3 separate regions of the Homo sapiens genome follow, and all the other regions are reported to be linked to region 2. The links are microRNA targets in miRTarBase. Many come from high-throughput screens and were not tested one by one. Region 2 holds a microRNA gene; each other region holds the end of a gene's coding sequence.

Region 1 (4,243 bases), not on the chromosome of region 2:
TGCCCCTGCCCTTGCTAGAAGACTATGGGAAATGAGGAGGCAGGGCTGCCCAGCCTCATTAGGTTCTGTTCTTTTTGTTTGTTTGTTTGTTTGTTTGTTTGTTTTTGAGACAGTCTTGCTCTGTCGCCCAGGCTGGAGTGCTGTGGCGCTATCTCAGGCTCACTGCAAGCTCCGCCTCCCGGGTTCACACCATTCTCCTGCCTCAGCCTCCGGAGTAGCTGGGACTACAGGCGCCCGCCACCACGCCCAGCTAATTTTTTGTGTATTTTTAGTAGAGACAGGGTTTCACCGTGTTAGCCAGGATGGTCTCGATCTCTGACCTCATGATCCGCCTGCCTCTGCCTCCTAAAGTGCTGGGATTACAGGCGTGAGCCACCACGCCTGGCCAGGTTCTGTTCTTAACCTGAAATGATACTCAGGAGCACCCCTGAGGCTTCTCTTCTGCTTCCTCCCCACAGCAGCAGTGTTGTACTGCTACTTCTATAAACGGACAGCCGTAAGACTAGGCGATCCTCACTTCTACCAGGACTCTTTGTGGCTGCGCAAGGAGTTCATGCAAGTTCGAAGGTGACCTCTTGTCACACTGATGGATACTTTTCCTTCCTGATAGAAGCCACATTTGCTGCTTTGCAGGGAGAGTTGGCCCTATGCATGGGCAAACAGCTGGACTTTCCAAGGAAGGTTCAGACTAGCTGTGTTCAGCATTCAAGAAGGAAGATCCTCCCTCTTGCACAATTAGAGTGTCCCCATCGGTCTCCAGTGCGGCATCCCTTCCTTGCCTTCTACCTCTGTTCCACCCCCTTTCCTTCCTTTCCTCTCTGTACCATTCATTCTCCCTGACCGGCCTTTCTTGCCGAGGGTTCTGTGGCTCTTACCCTTGTGAAGCTTTTCCTTTAGCCTGGGACAGAAGGACCTCCCAGCCCCCAAAGGATCTCCCAGTGACCAAAGGATGCGAAGAGTGATAGTTACGTGCTCCTGACTGATCACACCGCAGACATTTAGATTTTTATACCCAAGGCACTTTAAAAAAATGTTTTATAAATAGAGAATAAATTGAATTCTTGTTCCATAAATGGGGGAGTCTGTCTGTCTAGCTAGATCTCTTCATGTTAAGAGGCGTGCCAAGGTCCAGCTTAACATCTACTTGACCCAGAGGGAAGATGGAGCCACAGATGAAATACAGATCTTTGTTGAGATCCATTATGAGTACAAAGTATTTTAGCAGAAATTCAAGATGGAATCTGATGCTGCATCCCCCACTCCTGGAGCTCCAGATGTGTGTGCTCTGTTCAGACTCTCTTTCCTTATCAGAAGCCTTAACTGCCCTCAGAAGAATAAAAATATTCCCTTAGCCAGCTTTGGCAAAAGAAATTTTTAAAATTCTTATGTCCGTAGTATCAGTTTTCTATTGCCAGAATATTGTGTAACTCCACCACCAAAGTTCAGGGGCATACAGCAATCAACAGCTGCCTGGCTCTTTGTCTTGGGGTTCAGCTGATCAAGGCTGTGTGTGGGTGGTTTCATCTGGGCTCACTCTTGTGTCTGTCAGCTGCAGGTCAGCTAGGCAGCTGCGATGGCCTTGGGATCCACTGGCAGTTGGCTAGCCTTCATTGACCTCAGCTGGAGTGACTGTGGTTACTCAGCTCTAGTTTGCAGATTTACTTCCCACAGACTAGCCTGGATCTGCTCACACGCCAGTGGCAGAGCGGGAAAGTCCCAGTATGCAACCCCATTTCAAGCCTGTGCTTGTCTTGTGTCTCCTAGACTCCTGTTGATCAAGGCAAGTCACGCAACTAAGCCCAGAAACAAAGTGGCAAACGGTTACCAACCACAAGTTCTTAGACTCTCATTGCTATAGAAATTGACATGAGGCTAAAAGAATTTGCCGACAAGGCTTCATTGGAGCTTATGCCTGGGCATAAGAGACACAACACAAGTCAAAGAGAGAGTTCCCTGACTGACTCCAAACAAAGCCTGCAGGGATTTTTCTCTTAGGCAAAGCACTGGAATTGACCTCGGGTAGGGTAGGCAGGCTGGGCTGGACAAAGCACGTGAGGGTAGGGTGTGCAGGTCAGCATCTGGTTGTAAGGGTTATCTTGAATAATGGACCACCAGGTAGTCTAGCCAATGGCAGCAAATCTGTATTCTTTCCTGAGGAGGGACAGTCCACACACAATGTTGGTTTGATATTTTGGACCTCCTAAGGCCAGTTCCTGGAATTCTTTAAGTAAAAGGCCTGGTTAAACATTGTGAGAGCACAGAAGATGAATACAAAATGGCGATTTTCTTTGTATGACTAAAGCGTTGATGATAGTGGATACATCAGCAAGGTAGAGGGGTGGGTTTTGTGGTCAGTGGGGATGCATGAAAGGATGCTGTAGTGGGGGTGAGCTGAAGCCACACCCTGTCTCTACTCTGTCTCAAAAGCACTACAAATTTTCAAGGGCAAAGGCATGGATACAGAGAGAGTAAAGAATGGGGGCCATTAATTCACCCAGTCTCTCACACCAGAGAGCTGCTCTGTGAAACTTGTTCTTCAGAGATGCTTTGGCAGGGTCGCCAAGCTTTTTTTAAGAAGGGTCAGATAGTAAATATTCGAGGTCTTGAGGGTACAACCACTTAACCACGACACTGAAGCATGAAAGCTTCCATAGACTATAGGATACATAGGAAACGGGAAAGTGTGGGTGGTTTCAGCTGGGCTCGCTCATGTGTCAGCTGCAGGTCAGCTAGGCAGCTGTGATGGCCTTGGGATCCATTGGCAGTTGGCTAGCCTGCAGTGACCTCAGCTGGGGGCCCCCAAACATCTCAGGACCCCCAAACTCATTATGCCAAAGGGAAAGTTAAGCCTGGAGACTGAGTCACGCAACACCGCCCCCCTCTCCCAAATAAATGAATTTATTTTATTTTATTTTGAGATGGAGTCTAGCTCTGTCACCAGGCTGGTGTGCAGTGGTGCGATCTCAGCTCACTACAACTTCCGCCTCCTGGGTTCAAGTGATTCTCCTGCCTCAGCCTTCCCAGTAGCTGGGATTATAGGCACGTGCCGCCACGCCCAGCTAATTTTTGTATTTTTAGTAGAGATGGGACTTCACCATGTTGGCCAGGATGGTCTCGATCTCCTGACCTTGTGATCTGCCCCCCTCGGCCTCCCAAAGTGCTGGGATTACAGGACTGAGCCACCATTCCCAGCCCCAAATGAATTTCTGTTACTTCACAGCCTTTTGTCAAAGCATTATGCCTTAGGCCGACCCCACACCCCCAGGGAAAGGAAAAAAGCCTCAGGCATCCTTAGATGACTGCCCTCAGAAATTGTTCTGTGCTGGCTTTGAACCCTTTCAAGATGTCCTATAAAACAAGGACATGCCAATTCTTACTTCAGGTCTGCCTGCAATCTAAGTCTAGCTCCTAAAGTAAGAGTTTGTTAGATTTCACACTGATGATGCTTGTATTGATGAAAAAGAAAGCCGAACTCTAAAATACTTGAAGAGATGTATTATTCTGAGCCAATGTGAGGACAATAATCCATGACAAAGCCCCAGGAGGTCCTGAGAACACGTGCCCAAGATGGTTGGGTTACAGCTTGATTTTATGTATTTTAGGGGGACAGAAGTTACAATCAGAGACATAAATCAATAGACGCAAGGTGTACATTGATTTTGCCCAGAAAGGCAGGACATCTCAAAAGGGGAAGCCTTGCAAGTCAGGTGGATTTAAAGATTTCTGATTGGCAACTGGTTGAAAGGGTTAAATTTGGGCCGGGCACAGTGGCTCACACCTGTAATCCCAGCACTTTGGGAGGTCGAGGTGGGGTGGATCACGAGGTCAAGAGTTCAGGACCAGCCTGGCCAACGTGGTGAAACCCTGTCTCTGCTAAGAATACAAAAATTAGGCAGGTGTGGTGGCACATGCGTGTAATCCCAGCTACTCAGGAGGCTGAGGCAGGAGAATTGCTTGAACCTGGGAGGCAGAGGTTGCAGTGAGCCAAGATTGTACCACTGCCCTCCAGCCTGGGCAACAGAGCAAGACTCTGTCTCAGAAAAAAAAAAAAAAAAAGTTAAATTCTGCCTAAAGAATTGAAGTATTCAATTCTACCTAAAGTGTTGAAGTCCACAGAAATGTTTGCAGTTAAGATCATGAGAGGGTATAGAAGGCAAGGTTCTTGGTTTTGTTTTGTTTTTGAGATGGAGTCTCACTCTGTCTCCCAGGCTGGAGTGCAATGGCATGATCTCAGCTCACTGCA
Region 2 (4,243 bases):
ATAATGAATATTTCAAAATTGCTAAGAGAATAGATTTTAAATGCTGGCACCATGATATGGTTTGACTGTGTCCCCACAGAGATAATTGAATCATGGGGGCGGTTTCCCTCATCCTGTTCTCCTGATAATGACTTAGTTCTCACGAGATCCGATGGTTTTATAAGGGGATTCCCTGTTCACTGGGCACTCATTTCATTCTCCTTCCTGCAGCCCTGTGAAGAAGGACGTGTTTGCTTCCCCTTTCACCACAACTGTGAGTTTCCTGAGGCCTCCCCAGCCATGCTAAACTGTGAGTCAATTAAACCTCTTTCCTTTATAATTACCCGGTCTTGCATAGTATCTTTGCAGCAACATGAGAATGGACTAATACACACCACAAAAAAAAAAGTTAAGATGAGGTGACAAATATAGGAATCAGCTTGATTTCAACATTGCATAATGTGTGCATATATCAAAACATCACATTGTACTCCGTAAATATATATAATTATTTTTCAATTAAAAATTTTCTAATTAACAAAATAAAAATCACTTCAAATCCTACCTTGAGTTTACTACTTTAATATGTTTCCTATAAGCCTCATTTCCATCAAGTATTTTTTCTTTGCTCATGTGTATGTGAACAAAATCAGGAGATATATACTAATAATTTTTTATTCTGATTTTTTGTATTTAACATTAAAGTATGTACATTGTCATTTTGATTGGCTTTCTTTGATTTGCTTACAGGGAACAATTTGGAAAACAGCACTTACGGACTGTAAAGACTTTTTCCAGGAACAAACAAGACAAGAACTTTGTGCTAATATATTACAATGAACCTAGAAACATTTTTCATATCACCAAAGGAAATTGCAACTGGGGGCAAAGAATACTCAGTATTGGCTACTTTCATGTCACATAATCACTCTTATCTGCATGTGAGACAGCGTCCATAGTAGATGAAGGCAAGGGAGAAGTGGATTCTGAATGGCTTTTGAGTAGTAAATATTCAGTGTCTGTCATATTAGCTCACATGACCTCACAGGCCTTCACTAAAAAAGTGTTTAAGATTTTAAAATACTGGGCCATTGCATTGTCATCTTTATTTATGAACTGTAAGCCTGTCACTTGGGAGCATTTTCAATGAAAACTTCTCATACCTTCAATAAGTTACCCTTCAGTGACTGTTTTTGTTATTGCTTTGTTTTGAAAATTATTTGGGGATAAGGACTACCATTAAATTTTTTCTGTGGTGGGTGTGTTATGTAAAATTAAAGGGTTTAATGCAGTTTATCTCAGTTGGTTTAACTCAACATAGATTGAATCCCTACCAATTGACAAGAACTGTGCAGATCAATCTAGAAATGTACAGTCTAATGTCATTGAGGAGTGCCAAATGATATATTTTCCAAGTAATATAGAGACCACATAGCTTCTAACCTCATTCCACTCACTGAAAATGATGGCTCTAATAATAAAAATTTTCAGGGGTAGACCACTGAAGTTTAGCAACTCCCTAGATTTGGCAGCAGACAGGAAACTGAGAGGGGCACACATTACACTTGAGTTACTTAATTGAAACCTTGCTCCTCCTCCTCCCTCTTCTCCTCCTTTTCTTTTTTCATCCTTTCTCTACACTCTCCCCTTTTTGCTTCTTCTTCTCTATAGAGACCTTGGTTCTAGTGCTTTACTCTCATGTAAAAGTTTGGGAAACTCAAATTTATTTATTAGAACATTATTATTCCAAACACATTTGAGAACATCAAGTTTCTCCCCCAAAATGATAATTCTATTACTTCAAAAATGAACAAGAGAGAAGAAGAGGGGGAGGGAAGAGAGAGAGAGAGAGAGAGAGAGAGAATGTCTGAACATATAGTGGATTAGAATAACTATTTATTTGGAGGAAAAAAGTAGAGTAACGTAATTAAACCCTGAATAATATTTACTGATAGTTTTGTTATATAAATGTTTAAAAATAGAGCCGTGATACCTATTTGGGATTAACAGTAGTTCCAAAGGTAAGAATATATAGACTAATAACATAAATTTCACAAATTGTTGCATTGTGACATTAATAATATATTTCTAAATGGGAACAATTATCAACCACCGATAAACAGTCAAAACAAAGAACCCCAATTTATTCAGAGATGTGTAAAGCTGGGCACACCTCATTCATAGATTTTTTATTTTTAGAATTCTCGACATATTAAATTTTTCTGAGGAAAAAATGTATATTCATTTATTCATACTCATTTTTGAACTAACATTTATTTAAGGTCCACAATATGCTAGATATTTTATATTATTTTTTGATTACTTAATGCAAATATAGCAACATTATGAAGCAAGTATTATTATCCCTGTTTTACAAATAAGGAAATAAACTCAGGGAGGTGAATGTGATCAAAGATAGATATATAGTTAAGAAAGTTAAAGAGACAGGATTCAAGCCTAAGTCTGTCTGACTTCAAATCTCTCTTCTTCCCACTATTTATTGCTCCCTATGAGTTTATATTAATGAAATCTAAAATCCCACTTAAAACCGTATAATGAAGAAATTAAGAAAACCACCTGAGATAGTGATATAATTTTTCTAATCACTAAATATTTTTTTCTTAGCTCTTCTTGTGGAACAATATACAATATGATTCTTGGGATTGGTTGAGCATGTCTGCCTTATTCTAACTCAAATTTATTTAAGATATGTGTTTTATAGTATTCTGCTACTGGAAATATTACAAATACAGTAATAAAATATATCATTTATTAAGTAAAATAATAAGGAACATGAGTAAAACATTTTGCCTATATTATGCCAGCAGCTATGCTATGCACTGGCAACACACACAGGCTTACAATGAACCCAGAGGTGGGAGCATCTATGTCACCAGGAGAAATTTAAGGATGATTTAACATTTAAAAACTATTAATATGGTTTATTACATTAATAGATGAAAGGAGTGAAAAACATGATCAGTGCTTAGCCCATAGTAGGCAGTCAATAAATAGATGCGGAAAAGGCTTTGGTCAAAATTCTAGACCCATTCATGATAAAAGCTCCTTAGCAAACTAGAAATAGAAGTCAGCTCCCTTAACTTAATAAAACCTACAATAAACATACACTAACGGTGAACTGTTTTAACCTTACCTTTTTCACAGCCAGGAAAATTAGAAGTATGTCTAGTATCACCACTTCTGTTTAGCATTGTATTGGAGGTCCTTGGCAGTTCAGTAAGACAAGATAAAGAGTTAAAATGTATAGGATTGAAAAGGAAAAATAAAACTGTCATTGATCACAGATTATATAATTATCAACATAGAAAACTAAAAAGAATTATAGATATATTATTAGTAAGAGAGTTTAGCAAGGTTATTAGCTACAAGATCAACATATAACGTTAATTTTTTTCCTATACATCAACAGCAAATTATTATAAAAGAAAAGTTTAAGAAACAGTATATGATGCCTTGGAATACATAAAAGATGGTCAAGACTTTTTAATTAGTCAGGTAATGTTCGCTATGCTGTGGTAACACATAATCCCTGAAATAGCCATGTTGTAACACAACACCAATTTATTTCTTGCTCCAGTTACAGTTAATGTGAGTCAGGTGGCTCTCTGGCACAGCTTCCCTTTAAGAGCTGACTCAAGATTCCTGGAAGCTTCCAAACTGTGGCAATGCCATCTGGACTACTAGTTAGTTATAGAAAGGAGAAAAAGGAATGCAAGAGGCAAACTGGCTCTTAACTGCCCAGCTACCTGAACTTATCTTCAAAGTAGAGTGGGAAATGCGGATCTGAACATGGATATTTGGTGGACACTATCAGTGTCTGCCAAAAGGTATAATATTATTTAGAAAACATAGTAAAAAATTAAATAAAATGAGTGATATACCCTCCCATTCATGGATGGGAAAGTGAAGTAATATTGAATGCAATTCCAATCAAACTTGCAACAAGGATTTGCGTGTGTATGTGTGTGGAACTTGACAAAATGATTCCGAAATGTATATGAAAGAGCAAAGGGCCAAGCATAACTAAGACAAAAAAAAAAATGAGGCAGAAAGGCTGACTCTACCAGGTATCAATACGTGTTCGAAAGTTACAGTAATTAAAATAACATCATCTTAGTATAGGAATTGACAAAATAGCAATAACATTGAATATAGTCCAGAAACAGATTTCATGTATAAGAATTTAATAATTGATAATGGTAATATTTCAGATTAGTGTGAAAAAGATGATCTCAAAAAATGG
Region 3 (4,243 bases), not on the chromosome of region 2:
GGTGGTTACAACCTAAATGTTTTTAAAAACTGAAATAAAACTATCATCATAGTAAGGATATGTATTACTTCACAAAAGTGTATGTGCAATGTTGTTTGTGTCCATATACAATCACACTGTGTGTGTGTGTGTGTGTGGTCACAACATAAAATACTTATTCCTATGAGTTGCAATAAAAAACAAGTGAAAGCCACTGAATTAAAGAGATGAATTTATTGGTAAATAGATAAAATTAACACCTATTTTAATATATCCAAACCCCTTCCTTATATATATTAGGTAAATTAAAAGAAAAAAATTATCAAAGCAATACTACAGCCAGCTACATCGCCAATTTACAAATGAGTTAGTAAGTACCATAAGTTTGTTTGAATATCAGGTGCTTCAGAGTTTTTCTCAAACAGTTACAAAAGAGATTAGGTTCCCAATCAGTTCACAAAAGCTAATTTAAAGAATGTAGCTTAACTACAGTACTGAGGTTGTCACACACTTAACTTTCGGTCTCTTGCTTATTTATTCATATCTGAGGTTCACTGTTTCTACTAGGATACATTCCGCCCACACCCACACCTTGGTCCCCACATCAAGCAGCTCCTCACAGCAGGAAGACATCCGCTATCAGACATGGTTTTCTGAAGTTGTGCTTAGGATTTCAGAGGAGGAAAAATTCAGAGGTTCTAATAGCCTTCGGTAACTGAGGTAGAATATGGGGCTCCCAAGAATATCTTCCATATGCCCCAAATCTGTTTCCCTCCCACCCCCATCCAGCTCTGTTCAAGGTCAAGTTTGAGAAAGATACGTGTTCTCAATGGTATATTTTTAAAATCCACATCAATTTTTAAGAGACTACCTGCTAAAGGAGAATAATGGCTCACTGCATCTTTTCTCAACCCCCTAAACTATTTTAAAAACACACTGGCAGGGACAGGTGCAATGGCTCACGCCTGTAATCCCAGCACTTTGGGAGGCCGAGGCGGGCAGATCACTTGAGGTCGGGAGTTTAAGACCAGCCTGACCAACATGGAGAAACCCCGTCTCCACTAAAAATACAAAATTAGCCAGGGGTGGTGGCACATGCCTGTAATCCCAGCTACTCGGGAGGCTGAGGCAGGAGAATCGCTTGAACCTGGGAGGTGGGGGTTGCAGTGAGCTGAGATAGCGCCATTGCACTCCAGCCTGGGCGACAAAAGTGAAACTCCGTCTCAAAAACAGGCTGGGTGAGGTGGCTCATGACTGTAATACCAGCACTTTGGGAGGCCGAGGCGGGTGGATCACCTGAGGTCAGCAGTTCAAGACCAGCCTGGCCAACATGGCGAAACCCCATCTCTACTAAAAGTACAAAAATTAGCAGGGTGTGGTGGTGGGCACCTGTAATCCCAGCTACGCAGGAGGCTGAGGCAGGAGAATCGCTTGAACCTGGGAGGCGGAGGTTGCAGTGAGCTGAGATCACACCATTGTACTCCAGCCTGGGCGACAAGAGACTCTGTCGCAAAAAAAAAAAAAAAAAACAAAAAAAAAAAACAAAAAAAAAACCACTGGCTTTAATGGTGATAATTTGCTACTAATAAAATCAATAGCTGTTTTTCAACTGAACACTTAAACTTTTAGATCCAAATAAACTGTTTGGATCTAAAAAACTATATTACTAACATGTTTCCTTATGCCAAGGGAGACATGTGAGTGCCTAGAGAAGTATGGCCTGTGGTCTCCCACATTCAATTCAGGAACTCAGGGTCAAGCAGAAGGCCATGCTATAGACTTCAACACTCTGCTCTTCCCAATTTCATTATGTCCTGCAAGTTTTAAGAGCCGTCCGGAAGAGTGTAGGTTAATGGAAAGCTCAGTGAGAACTGCTCTGAAGAAGCCCCTCAAAATAATACATTAAGCTCAGCATCATTCACGTGGGCGGAATACAAACTGACATTCCTAACAGGACTTACCTAGCATGGACTCGATCTTAACCATGGTACCAAACTCTCAAGTGAAGCACACTGATGCCTGGTGAAAGCCAGGCGTTTGGTATGATGCTGACCTAGTGAACCTCTGGCCTTTTTGGCTGTGCTCATTACCTGGTCCCAGCACTCACTGGCACAATGCCAGGAGCCCAGAGAAAGGAGCAGGGGCTGCGGGGGGGGGGGGGGGAGGGGGAAGGGGGGAGGGAGGGTGGGGAAAGGGGAGAAGGGGGGAGGGTGGGGGAAAGGGGGAGGGTGGGTGTTAGGGAGAGAGGGAGGGGGAGGGAGGGGGAGGGGGGGGAGGGAGGGAGGGGGGAGGGAGGGAGGGGGAGGGGAGAGGGAGGGAGGGGGAGTGGGAGGGGGGGGGGAGAGGTGTGGTACAACCTGCTCCCGCTTCAGTCATCACCCACCACATGGCCTCTGGCTGACCATCCAGTAGGCCCAGCATTTTCCATCCACACCACAGGCCCCATGTCCTAAACCAGGAGTTTTACAAGTCTCAGGGAACTGGCTGCAATAGCTGTAACCAGTATACCTCTGGGACCAGCAGCCGGAGCACTGCAAATGGCAGGCGTGTAGATTCATAGGTAACACGTGCACAATTTTTCCAGTTTTACCTCTTGCTTTTATGAACCAGAACAAGTCTGGGAGGTTTAAGTAGGGAGAGGGTTAGAAATCATTTCAGCATATACTTTTTTAGGTTCTGCCAGACCACCTTTTATTACATCAGAAAAGCAACACTAGGCACTAGATCTTGCAAAATATGTTCTGACCAACTCTAAACTGTCTGAAGTTATAACCATATCAGTAAGGTTTTTAATGAACAAAAAAGTTAAATACAAACTTTCATATGCAAAATAGATTATTGTATAACTGGCAACCTCAGAGCCAAGTACTAAATTTTCTTCCACAAATTTCAGTGGGGATGGAGTGGGGAGATGTTAGTCTTAATGAGTAGAAAACTTAATTTAGACTTAATATATAGAAAACAAAAACTCTGAGGAAAAATAGCTTTAAATTGAATAGTATCTTTTGAAATAAACAGCTCAGGCCAGCCCCTACAATTCTGAGGTTTATACTCAACCAGATCTGGGATGAAAATGAAGATTTAGGGTTTACAGTTACTTCAAATCCATGAATCCAGTTTGAAGACTAAGCCAAGTCACCACATTTCCAGAAGGGGAAGTCTCTTTAAGGTGACCACAACACTCTTCGGAAGATGCTTGGATAATCAGAGTCCCTTGGGCACAGTTCCACTGTTCACGGCACTGTGCCAACGCTGTAGTGTCAGACTTCCTCTGAAAGGCAACAGGAGCCCTATCCCACAGCATTTTCATTTCTCCCAGCATTTTTTGAGCCTCAAAAAAACAAAAACAAAAAAAATCCCAAACCCTCCAGCTTCATGTTGGCAGTTACTGCTCCAGCTCCACTTCCTTCCGCCCCCAGTGAGAGTTCCCTCCTGCTCTTCAGCAGGGAGTGGCAGCTTGAGTAACATTCCTTTCAGAAATAAATAGTTCAAACAAGTAATTTAGAGCTAACTGTAAAAGAGCAGCAGTAAATGACCACTGCCCATTATGTTTGCAAACGAGTGAGTGAATGAATACGCTGAACAAACACACAGAAACAAACAATTCACAGAATAAATCCTGCATTTCCCACATTCATAGGGAAAAGAATCTCTTAAAAAAAATATTAGTTAGCGTTTGTTCTTGTGTGGGTTGAACAGTCCAAAGCTCTGAGCAGGCACAGCCTTACAAACAGGATTGCAAGCAGCCCTCTGCACCCCAAGTCAGGACTAGAGTACAGTGAGAGGCCTTCATGCACTTTTGACAGCTCAGTACCTGTGAGAACAGAAGTGATGCAGGGACTTTTTAACCCACAATGCATGAGGTATATGGAAATGTCTGTGAAAGAACCACCAGCAGCTAGAGGGACCAGGCAAAGTTTTCTCACAGCAACTGCTGATGAAGGATTTCCCACACCATCTTCTTCCGGAAGAGAGGCATCTGGTGCTGCAAAGAACCCCATAAACAACGCCCGCATTACATATTAATGTGCATGGCAGCACAACCTTCAGGTGTAATCATGTAATAAAGCAGGATGTCCATGTGCTTTTTCTAAGTGTTGACATTTTTACATCATGGAACATACTTATAAAACCATTTTTAACAGTTCATAATTACATGATATGTACCATAAGCACTTTTTTTTTTTTTTTGAGATGGAGTCTTGCTGTGTCACCCAGGCTGGAGTGCAGTGGCGCGATCTGCTCACTGCAACCTCTGCCTCCT

The links. Region 2 holds the annotated microRNA hsa-miR-1321 (CAGGGAGGUGAAUGUGAU, at 2,372-2,389, shown strand). A microRNA usually pairs through its seed, bases 2 to 8, with sites in the 3' UTR of a target mRNA and lowers its output. Matches are read on the target gene's strand: a 7mer-m8 pairs with bases 2 to 8, a 7mer-A1 pairs with bases 2 to 7 and ends in A, and an 8mer does both.
Region 1: the mRNA of TMEM138 is a reported target of hsa-miR-1321. Seed matches in the 3' UTR shown: 7mer-m8 at 720-726.
Region 3: miRTarBase lists SENP2 as a target of hsa-miR-1321. Seed matches in the 3' UTR shown: 7mer-A1 at 2,611-2,617, 7mer-m8 at 2,294-2,300, 7mer-m8 at 2,290-2,296, 7mer-m8 at 2,273-2,279, 7mer-m8 at 2,269-2,275, 7mer-m8 at 2,258-2,264 and 5 more.

What each region holds. Positions count from the first base shown.
Region 1 is chr11:61,368,139-61,372,381 of GRCh38, forward strand. TMEM138 (transmembrane protein 138) reads left to right here. Exons shown (of 5, transcript NM_016464.5): 5 at 459-1,371. The coding sequence ends at 571. Among named protein-coding and RNA genes, the nearest start is that of TMEM138, 7.9 kb to the left of the region's middle. RefSeq lists an enhancer at 1,634-1,893.
Region 2 is chrX:85,833,461-85,837,703 of GRCh38, forward strand. MIR1321 (microRNA 1321) reads left to right here and starts at 2,320; the gene lies at 2,320-2,398.
Region 3 is chr3:185,629,503-185,633,745 of GRCh38, reverse strand. SENP2 (SUMO specific peptidase 2) reads right to left here. Exons shown (of 17, transcript NM_021627.3): 17 at 195-3,964. The coding sequence ends at 3,902. Among named protein-coding and RNA genes, the nearest start is that of SENP2, 45 kb to the right of the region's middle.